Regions from separate parts of the Homo sapiens genome. Here regions 2 and 3 are each linked to region 1. Evidence: fine-mapped expression QTL. A gene starts in region 1. Each other region holds a variant in brackets. All regions are shown on one strand. Distances are from middle to middle. Region 1 holds the start of DPEP2 (dipeptidase 2). Region 2 overlaps SLC12A4 (solute carrier family 12 member 4). Region 3 overlaps RIPOR1 (RHO family interacting cell polarization regulator 1).

The links.
Region 2: its variant is fine-mapped to the expression of DPEP2 in whole blood (INTERVAL, PIP 0.91).
Region 3: its variant is fine-mapped to the expression of DPEP2 in whole blood (INTERVAL, PIP above 0.99).

The regions. Positions count from the first base shown.
Region 1 is chr16:67,995,531-68,003,706 of GRCh38, reverse strand. It overlaps DPEP2 (dipeptidase 2), which reads left to right and starts at 4,223. Exons shown (of 11, transcript NM_022355.4): 1 at 4,223-4,332. It also overlaps the pseudogene KARS1P3. RefSeq lists an enhancer at 5,284-5,800.
Region 2 is chr16:67,953,187-67,961,362 of GRCh38, reverse strand. SLC12A4 (solute carrier family 12 member 4) reads left to right here. Exons shown (of 24, transcript NM_005072.5): 4 at 3,319-3,465; 5 at 3,567-3,621; 6 at 6,590-6,720. Among named protein-coding and RNA genes, the nearest start is that of SLC12A4, 11 kb to the left of the region's middle. RefSeq lists an enhancer at 1,089-2,288. The variant ATG/G (reference allele first, on the strand shown) is at 4,528.
Region 3 is chr16:67,530,497-67,538,672 of GRCh38, reverse strand. RIPOR1 (RHO family interacting cell polarization regulator 1) reads right to left here. Exons shown (of 22, transcript NM_024519.4): 2 at 123-249; 3 at 1. The coding sequence starts at 226. Among named protein-coding and RNA genes, the nearest start is that of RIPOR1, 5.8 kb to the right of the region's middle. RefSeq lists enhancers at 150-219, 1-589 and silencers at 370-879, 1,100-1,379. The variant AT/T (reference allele first, on the strand shown) is at 4,698.

The DNA of each region.
Region 1 (8,176 bases):
GTATGGTCAGAGATACTTGGACTTGATCCTGAATGAATGAGGCAGAAATTTATCATCTGCTGTAAGATCATCACATGTATAATAAGTTTCTTAGGCCAGGTGCAGTGGCTCACGCCTGTAATCCCAGCACTTTGGGAGGCCAAGGCAGGCAGATTGCCTGAGGTCAGGAGTTCGAGACCAGTCTGGACGACATGGTAAAACCCCACCTCTACTAAAAATACAAAAATTAGATGGGCGTGGTGGCAGGTGCCTATAATCCTAGCTACTCAGGAGGCTGAAGCAGAATTACTTGAACCCAGGAGGTGGAGGTTGCAGTAAGCCAAGATTGCACCACTATACTCCAGCCTGAGCAACAAGAAAACTCCATCTCAAAAAAAAAAAAAAAGTTTCTTGGATGAGCTGGGATTCCTAGAGCTTGAAACTCCCATGAATGAACGTCATCCCAGGGGAGCTATGACCAAGCCTTTCATCACTTATCACAACAAGCTGCACATGAACTACTCTAGAACTCTACCATAAGATGCTAGTGGTTGGTGGCATTGACCAGGTTTATGAAATTGCATTCCAGTTCTGGAATGAAGGAATTGATTTGACGTAAAATCCTGAGTTCAGCACCCCTGAGTTCTACATGGCCTAGACTATCACAATCTCACGGAAATCACGGGGAAGATGGTTCCAGGGATGGTGAAGCATAATACAGGTAGTTACAAGGTCACCTACTACCCAGATGTCCCAGAGGGATAAGCCTGCAATATTGACTTCACCCTACCCTTCCGGAGAATCAGCATGATAGAAGAGCTTGAGAAAGCCCTGGGGGTGAAGCTGCCAGAAAATAACCTATTTGAAACTGAAGCAATTGGCAAAATTCTTGATAATATCTGCGTGCAAATGCTATTGCGTGCCCTCCACCTAGGACCACAGCCAGGCTCCTTGACAAGCTTGTTGGGGGAGTTCCTGGAAGTGATTTGCAACAATTCTACATTCATCTGTGATCACCCCCAGATAATGAGCCCTTTGGCTAAATGGCACTACTCAAAAGGTCTGACCCAGCGCTTTAAGCTATTTGTCATAAAGAAAGCGATAAGCAATGCCTACACTGATCTAAATGATCCTATGCAGCAGTGGCAGCTTTTTGAAGAACAGGCTAAGGCCGCAGGTGATGATGAGGCCCTGTCCGTAGATGAAAACTTTGTTGCCGCCATGGAATACAGGCTGTCCCCCACAACTGCCTGGGGCATGGTTATTGACCGAGTCACCATGTTTCTCACAGATTCCACCAGCAACTCGGAAGGCTGAGGCAGGAGGATTGCCTGAGCCCAGGAGTTTGAAGTTTCAGTGAACAACACAGTGAGACCCTGTCTCTAAAAGGAAATTTTTTTTTTTTGAGACAGAGTTTCGCTCTTGTTGCCCAGGCTGGAGTGCAGTGGCACGATCTCAGCTCACTGCAACCTCCGCCTCCCGGGTTCAAGCGATTCTCCTGCTTCAGCCTCCCAAGCAGCTGGGATTACAGGTGTGCACTGCCACACCTGGCTAATTTTTGTATTTTTTATAAAGACGGGGCTTCATCATGTTGCCCAGGCTGCTCTCGAACTCCTGAGCTCAAGCAATTCACCTGCCTTGGTCTCCCAAAGTGCTAGGATTACAGGCGTGAGCCACCATACCCAACCTTTTAAAATTTTTTTCTTTTCTTTTCTTTATTCCTTCCTTCCTTCCTTCTTTTCTCTTTTTTTAATCTTACAAAAAATGTTTCGGAAAAGGTATTTTATTTTTAAGACAGGGTCTTGCTCTTTCCCAGAGGCTGGAATGCAGTGGAGCGACCATAGCTCACTGTGGCCTCTAACTTCTGGGCTCAAGCAATTCTCCCACCTCAGCCTCCTGAGTAGCTGAGACTACAGACATGTGCCACCATGACCAGCTACTTTTTAAAAAATTTTTTTGTAGAGAAGGGGTCTCACCATGTTTCCCAGGCTGGTCTTGAACTCCTGGCCTCAAGCAATCCTCATGCCTTGGCCTCCCAAAGTGCTAGGATTACAGGCATGAGCCACCATCTCTTGTCCCCTGAGATACTTTTAATGGCCTTGCTGGATCCAGCTCCTGCACCCCAGGGCCCTCCTGCCTCCTCCCCACCCTCGGCTGATGGCACTACCTCAAGGACATGGGATAGCATGCAGCCTTCTGTCCCAGATCCTCTGTACTGTCTGAAATCAGGCAGAACCCAGCTGCAAGAGGAACTCAATGGTACACATGGGACCCAAGTCATCAATCGTCTCCATCAGAAAGCAACCCAGGGCCAGGCACAGTGGCTCAGGCCTGTAATCCCAGCACTTTGGGAGTCCAAGGCGGGTGGATCACCTGAGGCCGGGAGTTCAAGGCCAATGTAGTGAAATCCCGTCTCTACTAAAAATACAAAAATTTGCTGGACATGGTGGTGCATGCCTGTAGCCCCAGCTACTAGGGAGGCTGAGGTTGGAGAATTGCTTGAACCTGGGAGGCGGAGGTTGCAGTGAGCCAAAGTGGCACCACTGCACTCCAGCCTGGGCAACAGAGCAAGATCCTGTCTCAAAAAAAAAAAAAAAAAGAAAAGAAAAAAGGCCGGGCGCAGTGGCTCATGCCTGTAATCCCAGCACTTTCAGAGGCCAAGGCTGGTGGATCACCCGAGGTCAGGAGTTCGAGACAATCCAGCCTCATCAACATGGTGAAACCCCATCTCTACTAAAAAAAATACAAAAATTAGCCAGCCTGGTGGTGCATGCCTGTAATCCCACGTACTTGGGAGGCTGAGGCAGGAGAATCGCTTGAACCTGGAAGGTGGAGGTTGCAGTGAGCCGAGATCGTGCCCTCGCACTCCAAAAAAAAAAAAAAAAAGCACCCCAGGAATGTTGGACAGAGAGGCTGGCGGGGTAGGGGTTGGTTGGTAAGGCTTGAGCAGAAGGTTCTAGATGCATTCAGGAGATAAAGATGCATTTGGGGTTATTGCACTTCTCCTAGAAACATAAACATTGACTTCCTTTTGTGGAAGAAAAATGTTATGTTAGCTATTTGACGTTTCAGGAAGGGTGGCTTCAGCTTGGTGATTGGAGGATGTTTGTCTACAGTGGCCAGGCTGCTTTCTGGCTTGGAAGACTATTGTTTCTTGGGAATTGTCTGTATCAGACATCATGGGAGCAGATCCAGGGCGACATCAAAGGGAAGCATGAGTCTCCAGGACCAGAGGGGCTTGGATGCAGATGATCATCATCTGGGCACTGCTGGATACTGAGTAAGCCCCAGCTGCACCCCACCTCTGCGCTCTGAGCATGGGAGGCAGCCTGTGCAGCTATAACTCAGCCTGACTTTTTCCTTCCCTGCATACTCTTGAAATACACTGGAGATGAGTAGGGGCGAGTGAGCTGCACACCAGAATAAGTTTGGTCCTTGGAGCAAACTGTTTCTACTGCTGCCTCCTCTGCAGGTCTTGATTTATGCAAACACTGCATAGAAGAGGAAGTAGAGGGAAAAGCTGTTCACCCACCTACTCCTTCCTGGTAGCAAGATTTCCTATCCTGGCCTTGCCTCAACAGCCCTACCAATTGGAGGCTGAGGTTGTGCCAAGGCTCTATGGGGGGACGTAGCATCACTGAGGTGGCCAGATTTTGGAGGACAGGAAAGTTTGTGCTATTTGCTGAGACTGGAGAGGCTGGTGAGAGCAGACTCTCCATGAGTTGAAAGCCAAAGAAAGAAATTCGGTAGATTTCTGCAATGAGAAGCCACGGAAGAACTTCAGGCAGGAGGATGCATTGGATCTTGTTTTCGTTTTGTTAGAGATGGGGTCTCACTCTGTCGCCCAGGCTAGGGAGCAGTGGTGCCATCGTCTCTCACTGCAACCTTAAACTCCTGGGCTCAGGCGAACCTCCCACCTCAGCCTCGTAAGTACCTGGAACCACAGGCATGCACCACTTTTTTTTTTCCTTTTTCTTAGAGTTCTCATTATGTTGCCTAGACTGGTCTCAAACCTCCGGCTTCAAGAGATCCTCTCACCTCGACCTTCAAATTACTGGGATTACAGGCATGAGCCACCATGTCCTACCAGACTTTGTTAAAAGAGGAACAGGCCAGGCATCGTGGGCTCACATGAACACTCATGCCCCAGAAGTAAACAAGTGTTAGCCAACCAGGAGGCCTATCCTCCCCCTAACCTCACCCAAAGCCATCTCTGTGCCCTCCCCCTTGCAGGGGAAACAGCACACACTAGTGAAATCTTGTCTTAGTGTGTCCGGAATTGGTGGGTTCTTGGTCTCACTGAGTTCTAGAATGAAGCTGCAGACCCTCGCAGTGAGTGTTACAGCTCTTAAGGTAGCGCGTCTGGAGTTTGTTTCTTTTGATGTTTGGATGTTTGGAGTTTCTTCCTTCTGGTGGGTTTGTGGTCTTGTTGGCTCAGGAGTGAAGCTGCAGACCTTCGTGGTGAGTGTTACAGCTTTTAAGGCAGTGCGTCTGGAGTCGTTTGTTCCTCCCAGTGGGCTTGTGGTCTCGCTGGCTTCAGGAGTGAAGCTGCAGACCTTCGCGGTGAGTGTTAAAGCTCATAAAAGCAGCATGGACCCAAAGAGTGAACAGTAGCAAGATTTACTGCAAAGAGCAAAAGAACAAAGCTTCCACAGTGTGGAAGGGGACCAGAACAGGTAGCCACTGCGGGCTCAGGCAGCCTGCTTTTATTCTCTTATCTGGCCCCACCCACATCCTGCTGATTGGTAGAGCCGAGTGGTCTGTTTTGACAGGGTGCTGATTGGTGCGTTTACAATCCCTGAGCTAGACACAAAGGTTCTCCACGTCGCCACCAGATTAGCTAAATACAGAGTGTCGACACAAAGGTTCTCCAAGGCCCCACCAGAGCAGCTAGATACAGAGTGTCAGTTGGTGCATTCACAAACTCTGAGCTAGACACAGGGTGCTGATTGGTGTGTTTACAAACCTTGAGCTAGATACTGAGTGCCGACTGGTGTATTTACAATCCTGAGCTAGACGTAAAGATTGTCCACGTCCCCACCAGACTCAGGAGCACAACTGGCTTCACCCAGTGGATCCCGCACCAGGGATGCAGGTGGAGCTGCCTGCCAGTCCTGCGCCATGCGCCCGCACTCCTCAGCCCTGTGGTGGTCGATGGGACTGGGCGCTGTGGAGCAGGGGGCGGCGCTCACCGGGGAGGCTCCGGCCGCACAGGAGCCCATGGAGGGGGTGGGAGGCTCAGGCATGGAGGGCTGCAGGTCCCGAGCCCTGCCCCCCCGGGAAGGCAGCTAAGGCCCGGTGAGAAGTCGAGCGCAGCGCCTGTGAGCTGGCACTGCTGGGGGACCCAGTACATCCTCCGCAGCCACTGGCCCGGGTGCCAAGCCCCTCATTGCCCGGGGCCAGCAGGGCCCGCGGGCCGCTCCGAGTGCGGGCCCGCCAAGCCCACGCCCACCCGAAACTCCAGCTGGCCCGCAAGCGCCGCTCGCAGCCCCGGTTCCCACTCGCGCCTCTCCCTCCACACCTCCCTGCAAGCTGAGGGAGCTGGCTCTGGCCTTGGCCAGCCCAGAAAGGGGCTCCTACAGTGCAGCGGTGGGCTGAAGAGCTCTTCAAGTGCCGCCAAAGTGGGAGCCCAGGCAGAGGAGGCCCCGAGAGCGAGCGAGGGCTGTGAGGACTGGCAGCACGCTGTCACCTCTCATTAGGAGCTGCCAATATCAGTGGCACAGACCTGAGCACAGGGATAATTTGGGGTCAGAGGCTACAGTCTAAGTTAGCTAGATGCTGGCAGTGGGCAGAGTGGAAACAAGGCAGAGGCGGGGAAACTCAGGGCCTGACTCCAGAGCCGACCTTAAGTGTCACCGCTGATTCCTCCTTACTGTCTCCCACCAACCCTGCTTCAAAGCATCTCCAAATCCTGGGTTCAACTTCCAAACATGTCCCAGGAATGTCTCCTTCCTGTTCCCACTGCTTCTCCCCCTTACAGGCCCCTTCATTCCTTACCCCTCCTGATCTCCTGGCCTCCAGCCCATTCCCTACAGAAAAGCCATACCTATTTCTTCCATTTTAAAAAATGTGAGCTGGGCGCGGTGGCTCATGCCTGTAATCCTAGCACTTTGGGAGGCCAAGGTGAGTGGATCACGAGGTCGGGAGATCAAGACCATCCTGGCTAACACGGTGAAACCCCGTCTCTACTAAAAATACAAAAAATTAGCCGGGCGTGTTGGCGGGCACCTATAGTCCCAGCTACTCGGGAGGCTGCGGCAGGAGAATGGCCTGAACCCGGGAGGCGGAGCTTGCAGTGAGCCGAGATTGTGCCACTGCACTCCAGCCTGGGCGACAGAGCGAGATTCCATCTCAAAATAAATAAACAAATAAATATAAAAATAAAAAATTTGGCCAAGGGTCGGGGGTGGCTCATGCCTGTAATCCCAGCACTTTGGGAGGTCAAGGCAGGCGGATCACCTGAGGTCAGGAGTTCGAGACCAGCCTGGCCAACATGGCAAAACCCCATCTCTACTAAAAATACAAAAATTAGCCGGGAGTGGTGGCATGCGCCCGTAATCTCAGCTACTCGGGAGGCTGAGGCAGGAGAATCACTTGAACCCAGGAGGCAGAGATTGCAGTGAGCCAAGATTGCACCATTGCACTCCAGCCTGGGCAACAAGAATGAAACTCTGTCTCAGAAAATAATAATAATAATAATAATAATAATAATAATAATAATAATAATATCATTATCTATTTTTTTACAGACAGGGTCTTGCCCTGTCACCCAGGCTGGAATGCTATGGTGTTATCATAATGCTCACTGCAACTACAAGTGTGGGTGTGTCTGTGATTCGCTTTGTATGGTCCCCTCAAGGCCACATTTGAGGACTGAAGTTGCATATCATGGAAAATTGTGTTGTCTGGCTTATCTCCTACAGAGACAGTGCTCACTTTTACTGGCTCAACTCAGCCTGCCTCTGCTGAGCTAGCAGGTACCCCAAGTCCCAGGAGGTCAGACATTCGGGCTCTGGAGAGAAGCTTAAAAAAAAATGCAAAAAGTTGGCCGAGTGCGGTCGCTCACACCTATAATCCCAGCGCTTTGGGAGGCCGTGGTGGGTGGATTACCTGAGGTCAGGAGTTCAAGACCAGCCTGAACAAAATGGAGAAACCCCATCTCTACTAAAAAATACAAAATTAGCCAGGTGTGGTGGCACATGCCTGTAATTCCAGTGACTTGGGAGGCTGAGGCAGGAGAATCACTTGAACCCAGGAGGTGGAGGTTGCAGTGAGCCAAGATCACATCATTGCCCGCCAAGATCACATCATTGCCCTCCAGCCTGGGCAACAGGAGCAAAACTTTGTCTCAAAAAAAAAAGAAAAAAAATTCAAAAAGTTGAATTCTCCTCACCTACTCTGTCAGCTGTTATTTATTTATTCCTACCTACCCCTTCCTTATTTTTACATTTTTCAAACTGACAAATAATAATTGACCAGCCTGGGCAATATAGTGAGACCCTGTCTCTAAAAAAAAAAAAAAAAATAGCCGAGTGTGGTGGCGAGTACCTGTAGTCCCAGACTCGGGAGGCTGAAGTGGGAGGATTGATTGAACCTGAGAGGTTAAGGCTGCAGTGAGCTGAGACTGCACCACTGCAGTCCAGCCTGGGTGACAGAGCAAGACCTTATCTCAAAAACAATAATAATAATAATTTGCACATATTCATGGGGTACATAGTGATTTTTGTTGTTGTTGTTGTTGTTGTTGTTGTTGTTTGGCGGGGGGAGACAGGGTCTCGCTCTGTCATCCAGGCTGAAGTTCAGTGGCCCAATCTCGGCTCACTGCAACCTCTGCCTCCTGGGTTGAAACGATTCTCCCAACTCAGCCTCCCAGGTATTTGGGACTACAGGCGCGCACCACCAAGCCCGGCTAATGTTTGTATTTTTAATAGAGATGGGGTTTCCCCATGTTGGCCAAGCTGGTCTCGAACTCCTGACCTCAGATGATCCACCCACCTCGGCCTCCCAAAGTGCTGGGATCACGGGTGTGAGTCACTGCGCCCCACCCATAGTGATGTTTCAATACATATAACACATAATGATCAGGTTCAGTTCCTCATTCTTTATGCCCCTTACCTCTTGGGGCTCTCAGAATAAACTGTTTATCCCCAAAACCACATCTTTGACCTGGAGACCAGCAAATCCAAGAGCTTCTCCT
Region 2 (8,176 bases), 42 kb after region 1:
CCTCAGGAATGACAGCAGGAGACACAGCTGCCTGTACTCAGCCTTTACTGTGTGCGAGGTACCACACCAGGCCTGGGTTCTCATATGTCATCTGTACAACAAAACCAAGAGGCAGGTGCTTACTATCATCCCCATTTTTCAGACAAGGAAATAGTGTCAGGGACATTAAGGAACTTGTCTAAGGTGACTGAGCTAGACAAGATCAATGTGTAATGCTGGGAGATGGATTCGTAGATTTTATGGGAGACAGATTTGTGGGATATGTAACTATGCAAAATGCCAGATCAGTGACATTGTGTGAGGCTGGCTAAGAGTGTTGCCCTTGGAGCCAGGAACCAGGTTGTCTCTCGGAGGTCATGCAATCCAGAGCAAGTCACAAACCCTCCTGCTGCTCGCAGTGTTGGCCCAAGGCTCTATTGGCAGAAGCCTCCAACAACCCCCTGGGTTCCTTGAGTGCCAGTGTCAGGGGACATGTGTATGTGATCGGAGCCTGATGCTGCCTTGTGGGGCTTTCCTGTCCCACTTTTTGGTCACTAATCCAGTTCTCTGGCCCTTCAGCCCTCTTCTCTTTGGGGTGACTGTTACCTCTTTGCCTAGCTCCTCTGTGTCATTGCGGCTCAGTGTAGCTGAGGGCTGGGGATTTTTCTACATTTTTCATTTGGAGGCTAGGGACCCTCCCTCTCCACACACTGACTCCCTGAGGTTTGGGAAGCAGTGGTGTTTTAAGAGGAGCTGACGTCTGGCACTGGCTGTAGTATTCTCAGAGGTCGGCACAAGCAGAAGGCGCTCCTGGCTGGGATAAGCCAGGCCTGCAGCCTCACACCTGGTCGTGAGATTTGGGCCTTTCTGGGGTGGGGCCAGCAGAGAAGGTAGACCCCACTGAAGCGCGTCTCTCACCTTGCCCTTCAGGGAGGCAAACCAGCCCACACTTCAGAGAGGGCAGCTGATACCTTGAGGTCGCACAGACCTGACCCTGACCCTGTGCAGCCAGGTGTGACTAGATAGCAGAGAACCCTAACTGCGTCTGGCCATGTCTGTCCAGCACTGCAGGGGTGTCTCAACCTCTGAGAGTGCTCTGCCCACAGTGGGTGACAGGATCCTTAGGTCAGAGCCTCATCCTTGTCCCTTCAGGCCAAGCCAGGGAGCTGGTGGCGGGGAGTGAAGAGGCCCCTGAGAACGGCTAGTGCACATCTCAGCAGGAATGTGGGAGGGATGCCTGGGCCAGAGAGAGCCCATCATCCCTTGGCCCAATGGGGAACCCGTGAGGATGCTTAGCTTAGCTATCCAGCTTACCTGGCCACAGGGTAAGGATGGGAGAGGGTGACTGGGTGTCTTAGCTGCAGTAGTTTTTTCATGGAAGAAGGAGGAGCTGGGTCAAGTCTTTAAGGAGTCAGTAGGAAGTTAGGGATCTGGGGCTGCTGAGCTGTGGTCCTCACCCAGGGCAGGCCCGAGCAGGGGCCTCGGAAAAGGAAGGCTTGAAGCAGGAAGGGTGGGCCTCCGACCAGACCATGCCAAGACCCAAAGCAGCCTCTCCCCAGCAGCTGCTCCAGCTCCAGCACCGGCTTGATGACCTTCTGAGGCTGCCAGAGGTTATTTGGGGATGCAGAAAGCATTTCCGGCCCACCCTGCCCTTTCCCACACTGTCCTTTTCTTAGAGTGACTCAGCCTGGGATGGGGGTGGGACTGGGAGCTCTTGCTGTCGCTATTCTGTGGGTGGCATCCTCTGAGAAGGGCTCAGACAAAGCCCAGATGAGGGGGATCCGTCCCCTGCACTGCTCCACGCAGGACAGGTTGAGGAGCCATTTGTTTTTGCTGAGGCTCTTCTGAAGTCCTTTAGGTCGCTCACAGGTCTTGCCCCAGGCCAGGACCCTTCAGGAGGGGCATTAAGGAACTTGTCTAAGGTGACTCAGCTAGACAAGATCATGGCCATGGAGTTCTCTTCTCCCTAGCTTCAGGGCAGCACGGGCACTGTCTCGTGGGTCTTCCCTGTCCCCTCTCCCCGTATGATTTTCACTAATCTAGTCCTTTGGATCAGTGAGGAGGCTTTGCTGGGGCTCCAGTGGAAGCTGTCAGGGCCACACTTCGGAGGCTGCACTCTTGGGGGCTCAGTGCCTCAAAAAGATGTCAGCCAGCCTCTGTGCTCTCAGCCTCTGCCCTGGCCTCCTGGCTGGCCCCTACTCTGCCCTGAGTTGAGAAAGCCTGCCTGGATTTGCGTATTAGATCTTCCTCACCTGCCCTACAGCCTGAGCACTTTCTCTGTAGGATTTTCCCAACAGGATGTCCCAGGGGCTTCCAAAGCACCACTCACTGGGTTCAGAAGCACCTTTTGGGTACCTGCAGGGCCTGCTGGTGATAGAACCATAAACAAGCCAAGCCTGCCCTAATATAGTAACAAAATATACAAGCACATTCTGTTACCATGACCTGTAGTGACCACTGTGATAGGGAGTATCAGATGCCAAAGGAATGTGAGAGGGAGAACCAACTCCACCTGAGGCAACCTTCGGACATCTTCCCGAGAGAGGTAACAGTTTCACTGAAGAGTTTGCCAGGCCGTGAGGCAGGGCCGACTCTCCCAGGCAGAGTCCAGCACATTCTCAGGTTCGCAGAATCTGAGGGACCCATGTGGTCAGGGGCTGGAGCTAATAAGAGAGGTGATGGGACACATCTGGTGGCCCAAGCCAAGGAGTTGGACGGCACACTGGATTACAAGACAACAGAGGGTTTTCAGCATGGGTGATGAGATTAGACTTGCTTTCAGAGACCTACTATAGCAGCAGAGTGGGCTGGAGTGTGGAGAGGTTGACAGGCTCAGGAGGGTACCACCCAGGTGCCCCAGGTTCAAGGGACTAAGGCTGGGACAAGGCAGGCTGATCTCAGGGCAGCAGGGAGACAGACTGGGTAGGAGTTAGTGTCTACCGGGACTAGAGTTGGGGGTTGAGAGGGAGGGCCAGGGATGACTTCTGGGACTTTGGCTTGGGTGACTTAGGGCCTGCTGGGTGAGAAGGTGGAGATCTGAGACAAACCTCTCTTTCTAGAAGTTTAACAGAAGAGAGGAAGGGAAGGAGGCAGTACCTTGAGAGAGAGTTAAGGTTCCAAAGTTCAATGTGGGTTTTTAAAAAGAATCAGGTTTTACACCTTCCCAGACTCAACTGTCTTCCTATATGAAAGTCAATAGAGACATCCTAGCTGTCACCCCTACTCTCTGTGTTCCCTGGGGCCCCACTGGGGGAGGGGGCCTGCTGAGTGACTAGGGCTGACTCTCCATGGTGCATCCCTCTGATGCTCTACTCGCCCCCTCCCTTTGTGTTCGCATAGGCACCCAGCATGGGCACCCTCATGGGGGTGTACCTGCCCTGCCTGCAGAATATCTTTGGGGTTATCCTCTTCCTGCGGCTGACCTGGATGGTGGGCACAGCAGGTGTGCTACAGGCCCTCCTCATCGTGCTTATCTGCTGCTGTTGTGTGAGTGTCCTGGCGTGGGAGGGTTGGGCTGGGCATGGGCCACGGCTGCCCCCACAGAGCCCACCCAGCTGAGCCGCTCACCCAGGCCCTCCTTCCCACAGACCCTGCTGACGGCCATCTCCATGAGTGCCATCGCCACCAACGGTGTGGTTCCAGGTCAGTGAGCGCCACCCAAGGCCTGGTGGAAGAGAAAAGGACCCAGTATCTGCCTTGACCTACCTGGGAACCCCCATAGCACACCCCTGCCCCAAGCAGTTCTGTAGTGGGCTCCCAATCCCTGATGCCAGGACAGTGCCCACGTAGGAGCTTTCCTGCTTGACAGAGTTGGAGAGTGCCATTGTGGTTTTTGTTAATATAAAAGCAATACCAAAAAAGAAAAAAAAAGGGCAATGTATGTTTACTGTAAGAGGGTTTGAAAGTGCAAAAAAAGGCCAGGCGCGGTGGCTCATGCCTGTAATCCCAGCACTTTGGGAGGCCGAGGTGGGTGGATCACAAGGGCAGGAGATCGAGACCATCCTGGCCAACACGGTGAAACCCCATCTCTACTAGAAATACAAAAAATTAGCCGGGCGTGGTGGCGGGCGCCTGTAGTCCCAGCTACTCGGGAGGCTGAGGCAGGAGAATGGCGTGAACCTGGCAGGCAGAGCTTGCGGTGAGCCGAGATTGCACCACTGCACTCCAGCCTGGGCGACAGAGCGAGACTCCGTCGCAAAAAAAAAAAAAAAAAATTAGCCAGGCATGGTGGTGGGCACTTGTAATTCCAGCTACTTGGGAGGCTGAGGCAGAGAATAGCTTGAACCCAGGAGGCAGAGGTTGCAGTAGTGAGCCAAGATCATGCCACTGCACTCCAGCTTGGGTGACAGAGCAAGACTCCATCTCCAAAATAAATAAATAAATAATAAAAAAGTGCAGAAAGGTATAGAATGGAAAATTAAAAGCACCCATAATCCCACCATCCTGAAATCACTACTGTTCGCCTTTTGGTATATATAAGTCTTAGGGTCTTATGAAGTATTGCACACGCACACTCTATTTACATAAATTGTATATATATATATATAT[ATG/G]TGTGTGTGTGTTTGTGTGTATTTCCCAAAAGTATATGTGTGTATATATACATATGCATTTATGTGTATATGTTTACGTGTGTATGTGTGTGTGTATGTTTCCCAAGTGTTGAAAACAGTTTTTTGATTTTGGTTTTTTGGGTTTTTTTTGAGACAGAGTCTCTCTCTGTCACCCAGGCTGGAGTGCAGTGGCATGATCTCAGCTCACTGCAACCTCCATTTCCCAGGTTTAAGCAATTCTAAGTGATTCTCATGCCTCAGCCTCCTGAGTAGCTGGGATTACAGGCGACCACCACATTTTTGTATTTTTAGTAGAGACGAGGTTTCACTATGTTGGCCAGGATGGTTTCGAACTCTTGACCTTAACTGATCCACCCACCTCTGCCTCTCAAAGTGCTGGGATTACGGGTGTGAGCCACTGCACCCTGCCGAAAATGGTTTTTTGAAAACAGGATTCTCCATGGTACACCATAACCTAATTAATGTGATTATTCTCCTGCCTGTGGGTTCCACTTTTTCACCATTGTATACATTGTTGTCATGAACATCCTTGAACATGAATCTTTGTTCATGCCCCAGCAGTTCCCTTAGGAGAGGGTCCTGGAGGTGGATTACGGCATGAAAAAGATTGACTTTTCGTTTATTTATTTATTTATTTATTTTGAGACGGAGTGTGTCGCCCAGGCTGGAGTGCAGTGGCACGATCTCAGCTCACTGCAATCTCCACCTCCCAGGTTCAAGCGATTCTCCTGCCTCAGCCGCCCGAGTAGCTGGGATTACAGACATGCACCACCATGCTCAGCTAATTTTTGTATTTTTAGTAGAGATGGGGTTTCACCATGTTGGCTAGGCTGGTCTCAAACTCCTGACCTCAAGTCATCTGCCTGCCTCAGCCTCCCAAAGTGCTGGGATTACAGGCGTGAGCCACTGTGCCCAGCTGACATTTTTTTTTTTTTGAGACGGAGTCTCACTCTGTCGCCAGGCTAGAGTGAAGTGGCATGATCTCGGCTCACTGCACCCTCTGCCTCCCAGGTTCAAACGATTCTCCTGCCTCAGCCTCCTGAGTAGCTGGGACTACAGGTGCACACCGCCACGCCTAGCTAATTTTGTATTTTAGTAGAGACGGGGTTTCATCGTGTTGCCCAGGCTGGTCACGAACTCCTGAGCTCAGGCAGTCCACCCATCTCAGCCTCCCAAAATGCTGGGATTACAGATGTGGGCCACTGCACCCGGCCTTTTTTTAAAAATGTATATTTTTATCATTTCCTTTTTTTAGTAGAGACGGGGTCTCGCCATGTTGCCCAGACTGGTCTGGAACTCCTGAGCTCAAGCAATCCACTCACCCCAGCCTCCCAAAATGCTGGGCTTACAGGCATGAGCCACCACGCCCAGCCAAGATTGACTCTTTGAAAGAATTTCTTGATCCCTGTTCCCAGATTTTCACCAGAGACATTGTCTCAGCAGCAGATACAACCAGCAACATGAGATGACTCTTGTCCCCCTGTGCTTGTCACCCTGGGGCCTGGTCATGACTCTCTGAGTCTTTTAAGGGTGTTAGACTTTGATAGAAGCACAGATTCAGGGCAGGGAGCCGTGGACACTCACCTGGTGGCAGGCACTGTGCGGGGCCTTAGGGCCAAAAGGCTGGATGAGACAGTCCCTCCTCTGGTCTGGAGGAGTCAGACTAACAAAGGCACAGGCCTCAGGAGGGTGAGGTGGGCTGAGATAGGACACACCCAGCCAGAGGAGGCTGTGGGCTGTGCACAGGGCATTGGAGGATGGTGGCCAGTCAGCCACTGCTGCAGACTAGAGCTGCTCCCGCAAAGCAGTTATTTCCACGGGCCGTGCTGGACATTCGAGTCAGATGGGGATAGGATCGAATGTCAGCCTAGATGCTTACCCACCGTGCAGCCCTGGGTAGGTCTCCCAGCCCCTCTACTCATCCACAAACAGGAAAAGCAGTCCCTGTCCCTCTGGGTGGTTGTGCAGGCTTGTCACAGGGAGACCCCTTGAAGAAGAACCAGCCTTGACCTGTGCACACTTTCATTTCTCTGCTGTAGCTGGGGGCTCCTATTTCATGATCTCTCGTTCACTGGGGCCAGAATTTGGAGGTGCTGTGGGCCTGTGCTTCTACCTGGGAACAACATTCGCAGCAGCCATGTACATCCTGGGGGCCATCGAGATCTTGCTGGTGAGTCAGGCTGAGCCCTGGCCAACTCTGGCCATGTCCAAACAGTCCCTTTGGACTCCAAACAGAAGGCTCAGGCTGTTCATCCCCACATGTCTGGCCAAGGCCTGGGTATTATAAAGTAGGAAGCCTCTTCGAGAGACAAAGACCTTTACTCAGGCTGGTCTTCCTTTCACCTCCATGCCAGTTTGGGCCAGGCAAGGCAGAGGCCTGGCTGCCTTCACCTCGGCCCTGGATGTTCCATCCACCTGGGCACCATTGCAGCCATGGCAAGGGTTCCAGGAACTGTTGTATTCAGCTCAGTGACAGATCTTGGTGGTGATGTAGGCTTCCTTCTGGGCTTGTGTGAGCTCTGGCCAGCTCTGTGTCCTCCGGGGCTCTGTGCCAGGGCACTTCAGATCCACCTTCTCCTTGTCCTTCAATCAGGGTAAGCAGCCACAGAACCCTGCTGGAGGTCGGCGCTCCCTCCACGAGCCCCATGGGAGCTCTGTCAGCCTCAGCTTCTCATTCCCCAGTGAACTGCCGTACCAGTGGGAGAAGAGGCAAGGAGCTGCGGGAGGCATGGGGTGACAGGTGCCCGCCCCTGGGGATCCAGAGGGTAGGAGATACCTGGAGGGACTGCCTGGCTGTTCTTGTCTCCAGGTCCTCTACCTGCAGCAGGACCCTGCACCTGAATCTTCTGATTTGGGGGGGCTTTGGCTTGTTTTCATTTCTCATATCCCTTCTACATTCATTATGTGGGATTTGTCCCTTCTCCTGTTTATCTATTCAGCCATGTCATTATATCTGTATGGACTTCTGGATATTTACTTTATTCTTTGGGTTGTAATCCAATACTATCATTATTTATTTTCTTGCTCAAACTGTTCCACTTTGGCTATTTAACGATTCAGGTTGGCATCTATGTTTGGATCCTTTTTGTTTGCTTGTTTTTAAGTAACAGCTTTATTAACATATAATTTACATACCATGCAATTCCCATACCAATTTATATACCATTGAAAGTGTACAATTCAATGTTTTATAGTATATTCACAGAGTTGCGCAGTCAATTCTAGAACATTTTCATCATCCCAAGAACCCCCATTAGCAGTCACTCTCCATTCCCCGCCAGCCCTGGCAACCAGGAATCTGCTTTCTGCCTTGGGATTTGCCTATTCTGGGCATCTCATATAAACAGAATCATATAATATGTGACCTTTTGTGACTGGCTTCTTTTAGGTACTCTTATTTTTTATTTTTATTTATTTATTTGTTTTGAGATGCAGTCTCACTCTGTCGCCCAAGCTGGAGTGCAGTGGCATGATCACAGCTCACTGCAATTTCCGCCTCCTGGGTTCAAGTGATTCTCCTGCCTCAGCCTCCCGAGTAGCTGGGATTACAGGCTCATGCCACCACGCCCAGCTAATTTTTTGTATTTTAGTAGAGATGAGGTTTCACCAAGTTGCCTGGGGTTGTC
Region 3 (8,176 bases), 470 kb after region 1:
CCTGAAGGAGAGGCTGTCCTCAGAAAGAGGAGAGCAGGAGTCCCCCAGACTCTCACTACGCACCCCCAGACCCAGCCCCATCTGACGCCCTTTGACCCCACCAACCCTGCGCGGCCGCGTACCTGGGCCCCCGCTCGTGGCTGCCGAGGACGCCTGCGAAGGACTGGCTCCTATTGACCCGGGCGCTGAGCAGACGGCGCTGCGGCCGCACCGACAGGGACATCATAGAGTGAGTCCGCGCGGGGCTCCCTGCGGGTGATCGGGGGGGTGTCCAGTACCAGTCGGATCCCCGAAGCCCTCTCCCACGCAGCGGGATCCAGGGCTGGCGCAGGTCTTTCCTGTCGCTAGGCACAGCTGCCCCAGCGGGCTCCGGCCGGGTCCGCCTAGTCCCGCCGACCCGGGCACTAATGACAGGACAGCCGCAGGCGACTCGGCCTCGGACTCAGCGTGGCCTCGGCTCGGCCCCCACTTCCTGCCGAGGTGCGGGCTCCGCCTGCCGCGGGGCAGGAAGGGGGGTCGCGCGGGGACCCTCCTCCGGCTGGGAAGGGGCAGGAAAGGGGCGGCGCGCGCGAAGAATGTGCGGAAGCGCCTGTTTACCCGGGGGCGGGGCAGCCTCCCCAGCCCTGCCCCCGATTTCCCCCCCCAGGGCACCCGGAGCTCGGGGCCCCCCACCCCGGGAGCCCAAGGAGGTCACGGGGCGGGGCGGGGCCACGCTCGGAGCCCTGCGGAGCTGCCCGACAGGCCCAGCCGGTGCGGGTTTGTCGCCCGCCCCCCGCCTGCCAGCGTGACCTGCTGCCCCCAGCCCCCACCGGCCCGGGCGTCCCGGCGCCCTCCAGGCAGGGGGATTCCCAGAGCTGGGCGCGATGCCGAGAAGGGCCCCGCCCCCTCCTCTTTCCTGAGGCTCCCACCTGGAAACTGAGTCACGGACGTGCGCCTCCACCCCGGCATCGGCGGGGAGAGCTCCTCGGCAGACCCCCACCCCGCTTCGGCGAAACACACACTCCTGGCCCCCAAACCCGGCCTGCTTCCCCTGGGGCCAGTCCCTGAGCTTTCGCAGCCCCGAGCTGGGTCCTACCTCTCTTCTTGGTGTTCATGGTGGGTCCGGGACGGCCCCCGACCCGCGCTCGCCCCCCGCGGACCTTCCGGCCCTGGCCACTTCGAGCCGCCCGGCTGGGCTCCGGGCTCGCTCCCAGCGGCTCTGGCTCGGCTTCGGCTCCTCCCGGCGCCGCCCCCCGCCCAGTTCCTGCCGCCTGACTCAGCCCGCCTGGATGGGGCGGGACCGGTGACTGGGGTTCCCCTCGGGGAGGGGACCGACGGGGGGCGAGGGGTCTGCTCAGCTGGGGTCAGCAATGTGCGTAAAGGGATTTGAGCATGGGGATGAATATGAAGGGATAGAATGGAGACGCTAAGTGGAGGAAGTATCAGACATTAGAGTAGGGGGCTTAAAGAGTCGCTATTGAGGCCGGGCACAGTGGCTCACGCCTGTAATCTCAGCACTTTGGGAGGCCGAGGCGGGCGGATCACGAGGTCAGGAATTCGAGATCAGCCTGACCAACAAGGTGAAACCCCGTCTCTACTAAAAATACAAAAATTAGCCGGACATGGTGACGCGCGCCTGTAATCCCAGCTACTCAGGAGGCTGAGACAGGAGAATCGCTTGAACCCGGGAGGTGGCGCCACTGCACTCCAGCCTGGGCGACAGAGCGAGACTCCGTCTCCCCCAAAAAAGAGTGGCTGTTGAGCAGTGCTAAGGCTGAACACACAGAGGGCTGAGAGCTGGGGTTCTAAGTGTGAGAAGGTGGATAGTAGGGGGCTGAAGAGTGGAAAGATGGGCTAAGGGTGCTGATTGGAGGGGCTGTGCCAATGGAGGGCGGAGAGTTAGGGCACTGATCACCAGGGGACTGAGGCTGAGAAGAGAGGCTGAAAGTGTGAGGCTAGATCCACCCCATAGTGTGTGCTGCTGCGCCAAGAGAGATGCAGAGAAGGAACTGGATGCAGAGTCCCACAGCCCCATGCACCACCCCATCCCTACTCCCACAGAGGGAGTGCTCAGCCTGAGCACTCCCCTCTTCCCAGGACCCAGGGGAAAGGATCAGGTCTGGCTGCCAGCCAGGGCCTCCTCCCTAGTCAAGCTGCATCCTAGGCTAATGCCCCATCCTTCCTGCCCCCAGCTCACATGGGCCTCTCAGGTTCTGCGTTCCCATCCTGATCCCCATCCCCAGTACCTCTCTTTTTTTTTCTGTGTCTCCCAAGCTGTAGTGCAGTGGCACGATCTTGGCTCACTGCAACCTCTGCCTCTCAGATTCAAGCGATTCTCCTGCCTCAGGCTCCCAAATAGCTGGTATTACAAACACCCGCCACTATGCCTGGCTAATGTTTGTATTTTTAATAGAGACGGGGTTTCACCATGTTGGCCAGGCTGGTCTTGAACCCCTGACCTCAAGTGATCAGCCTGCCTCATTCTCCCAAAGTGCTGGGATTACAGGCATGAGCCACCGCGCCCAGCCTATCTCTTCTTTGAATATCCCATGTCCACCTCTAGCCTGGATAGATGCCACCATGCCCATCCCTCCCTTGACCTTGGAGGGGCTGGATGCTCCCCCATCCCATAAACACTCTTGCTCCTTGAGGCTCAGTTCTCCCATACTGTGCTTACTTTCTCCCCAAAAGGCTGGGTTGGGCCCAGGGGTCTGCATTTCCACAAGTTCCCCCTCCCCCCGACAGATTCAGATGCAAGAGGTCCAGGGACCTCAGTTTGAGATATGTTATTCTCCCCTCCTCCTTGAAGGCGAAGCCTGGGTACCCTGCACCCTACACTGGTGACCTGTGCATTCCCATGGATTGCCTGCCTATCGCTGGCCTCTCTGGTCCCTTCAGCCATCCCCAGCCTTATCACCTGCCTTTGGAATGCCCCCCTCCTAAACCACAACCACACTGATGCAACCCTCAGGCTTTCCATCACCCCCACCTCACCTGCCTTTTACCTGAGACCTCTGGCCCCTTGAGCCCTCACCCATTTATTCACCTATTCACTGAGTGGCAACCTTGTGCCAAGCATGTGCCAGTCACTGGAGATACAGCCCAGAATTTCACAGACACCACCCTGTGCAGAGCTCACAGTCCGCCTCTGCTTTCTTTTTTTCTGCTAGCTCCCTCCTACCTTCTCTTCTGTACCTTCCCTGCACAGCCTCCTCCCCAGCCTGGATCCACAGCCACCATCCCATCACTTGCCTGCTGCAAGTATCCTCAGCACTGCGCACCTCTCTCCCAGCTGGCAGAAACCAGCCCTGGGGAATCCAACTCCTGGACTTCTCTACACCTGCACACAGGTTGGCAGGAGTTGCCAGAGGTCTTGGCACAGCAGCCTGGCTGGAATCACAGAGCAATCCTCAACCTTGGCCAGGCCCTCACTGCCCACCTGGCAAATCCTCAAGTGTGACCCTAGTCATCTTTCTCCTTTTGGGGTGTTTCAGACTTTCTCCACAAGTCTCAGACAAGCTCAAGTCACTCCCACATGAAAAATAAAAACGGGCTGGGTGTGGTGGTTCATGCCTATAATCCCAACACTTTGGGAGGCAGAGGTGGGTGGATCACTTGAGGTCAGGAGTTCGAGACCAGCTTGGCCAACATGGTGAAACCCCATCTCTGCTAAAAATACAAAAATTAGCTGGGCTTGGTCGTGCACGCCTGTAGTGCCAGCTACCTGGGCGGCTGAGGCAGGAGGATCGCTTGAACCTGGGACGCAGAGGCTGCAGAGAGCTGCTATCATGCCACTGCACTCCAGGCTGGGTGACAGAGCGGGAGTCTGTCTCAAAAAAAAAAAAAAAAAAAAAAAAAGAAAAAAAGAAAACCCTAGAAACTGTCCAGATGCCTGTCAATGAATAATGGAATTACCACATAGCAAAAAGAATGAAAAATATACAGTGACATGCAACAATATGGGTGGATCTGAGAGCAAACCCAAGAGAGGACAAATGTATGACCTTGATAATAAGTTCAAAAGCAAGCAAAACTAATCTATGGTGATAGAAGTCAGCCTGGGAGTCTCCCTCCAGGTGTTGTGACTGAAGAGGCCACAAGGGTCTTCCAGGGTGCTGGTAATGTCCTATTTCCTGCTCTGGGTTAAATTTCCTGATTCTATATGAGTGTGTTCTCTTATGAAAATGTACAGAGTTGTACACTTAGGACATACACACTTTTTGTGTGCCTATTATATTTCAATGTAAAATTGGTTGTAAATAATTACAAAATGTTGGGCCGGTGCGGTGGCTTACGCCTGTAATCCTAGCACTTTGGGAGGCTGAGGCAGGTGGATCACTGAGGCTAGGAGTTTGAGACCAGCCTGGCCAACATGGTGAAACCCTGACTCTATTAAAAATACAAAAATTAGCCAGGTGTGGTGGCATGGCCTGTAGTCCCACCTACTCGGGAGGCTGAGGCATGAGAATTGCTCAACCCAGGAGGCAGTGAGCTGAGGTCGCGCTGCACTACAGCCTAGGTGATAGAGCAAGATTCTTTCTTAAAAAAAAAAAATTACAAAAAAGAAATGACTCAGCCCAGTGCAGCAGCTCATGCCTGTAATCCTAGTACTTTGGGAGGCCGAGGCAGGTGGATCACCTGAAGTAAGGAGTTCGAGACCAGCCTGACCAACTTGGTGAAACCCCGTCTCTACTAAAAAAAAAAAAAAAAAAAAAAAA[AT/T]TAGCCGGGCGTGGTGGCGCATGACTGTAATCCCAATTGCTCAGAAGACTGAGGCAGGAGAATCGCTTGAACCCGGGAGGTGGAGGTTGCAGTGAGCCAAGATTGCACCATTGCACTCCAGCCTGGGCGACAAGAGCAAAACTCCATCTCAGAAAAAAAAAAAAAAAAAAGACTGCTTGTGGACCTTCTGTCTTTGTCCAGCTACCCCATTTCTTACTCCATCTTTCTCCTCTCCTTTCAAAGCCAAGTGTCTTGAAGAGATGTCTACCTGCATTTTCTCACTACACCCGCCTGCTCCTCTTCCCACCCTGGTCCAGTTTCTGTACCCACCACTGGACAAGGTCACCAGTGACCTCCCTGTTGCTGAACCCAGTGCCCATGTTTTATCCTTATCCTGCTTGATCTCAGCAAAGCTTTGGACTTCGTGGTTCCCCTCCTCTTCTTTAAGCCCTTCCTTCCCCTGAATTTCAAGAGACAATACGCTGGTTTTCTATCTACCTCTCTGGCTGCATATCTTACTTTCCCACAGAGGCCCCTTCTTTCCTCCCATCCCCGAATGGGCCTTATCCTCCCCGCCCTTGGGCTGTGCACAGATCCCGCAGCTCAATGCCATCTAAATGTTGCCAGCTTCCTTATCTCTCCTCCACCCAAGCCACTCTTCTGAGCACCAGGCCTCTGTATCCAACTGCCTGCTTGCTGCCTCCCCAGATGCAGCGTGCGCTGTCATAGTGCATGCTGGGTTTGAGGTTCCCAAACCAAATTCACCACTTTCCACCTGACTCTCCCTAGTCTCAACTTCTCCATGACACTCCACCATCTATGTACCCCGTTGTTCAAGACAGAAACTAGAAGTCGTCCTGGATGTCTCAGTTAGCCCCTATGACCAGTCACCCCCTCCTGCCAGGTCACCCCCTCCTGCCAGGTCTGGCTCTTAAATCTCTCTGCAATCTGCCCCCTCACCTCTACCCCTATAGCCAGAATTCAGGTCCAAGCCATCACCAACTCTCCCCTCGAGCCCTACAGCTGGGCTTCTGATGAGCTAGAACCTTCCTGAGGGACCTCCTGTCTCCACTCTAACCTGCAATCATCCATTCATTATTCAGTAACAACACTGACCTTAAAATTGTAGCCACTTGACAGTGCCAAAAACTGTCCTTTATTGAGAGCATTCTATATGCCAGGCATTGAGCTTAGCAAACATCATCTCATTTAATCCTGGCAACAGCCTTATGGGGTAAGTCCTATTAGCTCCACTTCGCACCTGAGAAACCTGAGGCTGTGTGACCTTGGGCAAGACACTTATTCAGCCTTTTGGGCTTCAGACACCCATCTGTAAAAAGAGGACAATAATAATAATAACAACAGCTATTTCCCAAGGCTGCTGGGAGGATGAAATGAGATCTCCTCTCATGAGGATGTCCCTCTATAGGAAGTGTTTGGGGAAGGGAGAATTGTATGTGGGGTAGGGACGTTGAGGTGGACTCACTATACCTAATTTTTTTTTTTTTAAGACGAGGTCTCACGCTGTCACCCAGGTCTCAGTGCAGTGGTGTGTTCATAGCTCACTGCAGCCTTGAACTCCTGGGCTCAAGCGATCAGTTTCAGTGCAGTGGTGCGTTCATAGCTCACTGCAGCCTTGAACTCCTGGGCTCAAGCAATCTTACTGCCTTAGCCTCTTAAGTAGCTGGAACCACAGGCATGCACCACCATGCCTAGCTAACATCTAACTGTGAACACACAACAAATACTAACTGCTATTATTTTTAACAGTCACACGGCCGGGTGCGGTGGCTCACGCCTGTAATCCCAGCACTTTGGGAGGCTGAGGAGGGCGGATCATGAGGTCAGGAGATCAAGACCATCCTGGCTAACACGGTGAAACCCCATATCTACTAAATATACAAAAAAAAAAAAAATTAGCTGGGCGTGGTGGCTGGCGCCTGTAGTCCCAGCTACTCAGTAGGCTGAGGTGGGAGAATGGCATGAGCCCGGGAGGTGGAGCTTGCAGTGAGCCAAGATCTCACCACTACACTCCAGCCTGGGCGACAGAGCGAGACTCTGTCTCAAAAAACAAAACAAAACAGTCACACAGGTGGTAAGTGTCAAGACCATGATTCAAACCCAGGCTGTCTGACCCCAGGACTCTAAATCTTTAATATCACTCTATTCAGACTGATGTGAAATAGCCACAGCCACTCTTGTCCCAGGGAGAAAGCCCAGACTCTCTAACATGACCCACGTAGGCCCTTCAGGATTTGTCCTGTCCCTCACATTCTTTCAACCACTCCTCTCCTCCCAGTCCCCTGCTTTCTCTGTTCCAGCAACTGAGACCCTCTCTCAATACCTGCAAGGTTCTTCAGAATCTGACCGGCAGCCCCCATCGCTCCTATTCCTTCTTCCCACTACTCAGCCCCAAGTCCCTCTCCTTCCTCAAGTCTACCCTATGACTTCTTCCTCCAGGAAGCAGGCCCTGGGTTGGTTCCCCCTTTTTGACTTCCTCCCTCTGAACCCCGAGACCACATAACCCAGTTGTCAGTTCTCCTTTAGGGCCTGTCTTCCCACCAGACTGAACCTTGTGAGACCTGGGGCATATCTGCTTGGCTCACCACAGCGCTCTGGGGGTCCTGTAGCACCTGGGAGATGAAGGGGGGGAACAGTGGGGGAAGCTGGGCTGCCTAGACACAGGAACAGCAGGTCCTGAGCTGTTTGTTGGTGGGGAGGATTTTAAGTCTATGTCCACCCCAACTCCCCTACCCGACATGCAATCCTCCCTCTCCCTTCCCACTGGCTGATGGTATCGTATACCATCAGCAAGTGGGGCTCTGCTCCCTGGGATGGTGCAGGGTGGGGATCCCCTGGGATTCTGGACTTGGAAACCGCTGACTGTTCCATCACTTTTCTCTCTCTGGTTGGCCCTCTGCTGCCACCATCCCCCGAGTCCCATAGGAACTAGGATGTCTAACTGTTGGTACAAATGACCATCATAATGTCCATCTGAGTGACCGCTTCGGGAGATGGGCGGGCAAGATTGCCCTTGCTGGGTGAGAGCAGGTAGGGAAAGAGCTGAACCCCTTGAGCTAAGGCAGAAGGGCCACCTCAACTGGTGGGGGACTGGCTGATAAGAACCAGGGGACTCTCTGGGCTCATGTCAGCCCTATAGTCTGTTCCCAGGATGGGAAATAACCCAGATCCAAGGTTCCAAAGGTTATGGGGCTTGCAGCACAGCCAGGTCAGGATGGCCGTGAGTGGAGGAGCCCTGACCTGTCCGCATGGCCCCAGATCTTGCAGCCCCGCTATACTTCCTACACACCAAGACTGGCACACCCGGGTGCGGCGGAATATCCCACCACCTGGGCTGCCCATCTCAGCACTGTGCCAGGCCAGCTGCCTCTCTGGGAGTCCCCGGGTCTAGCCCCGCCCCACCCCGGGGCCGCCCCGACCGAGGTAAACAGAGGCTAAAAATAACCTGGGCAAGGGG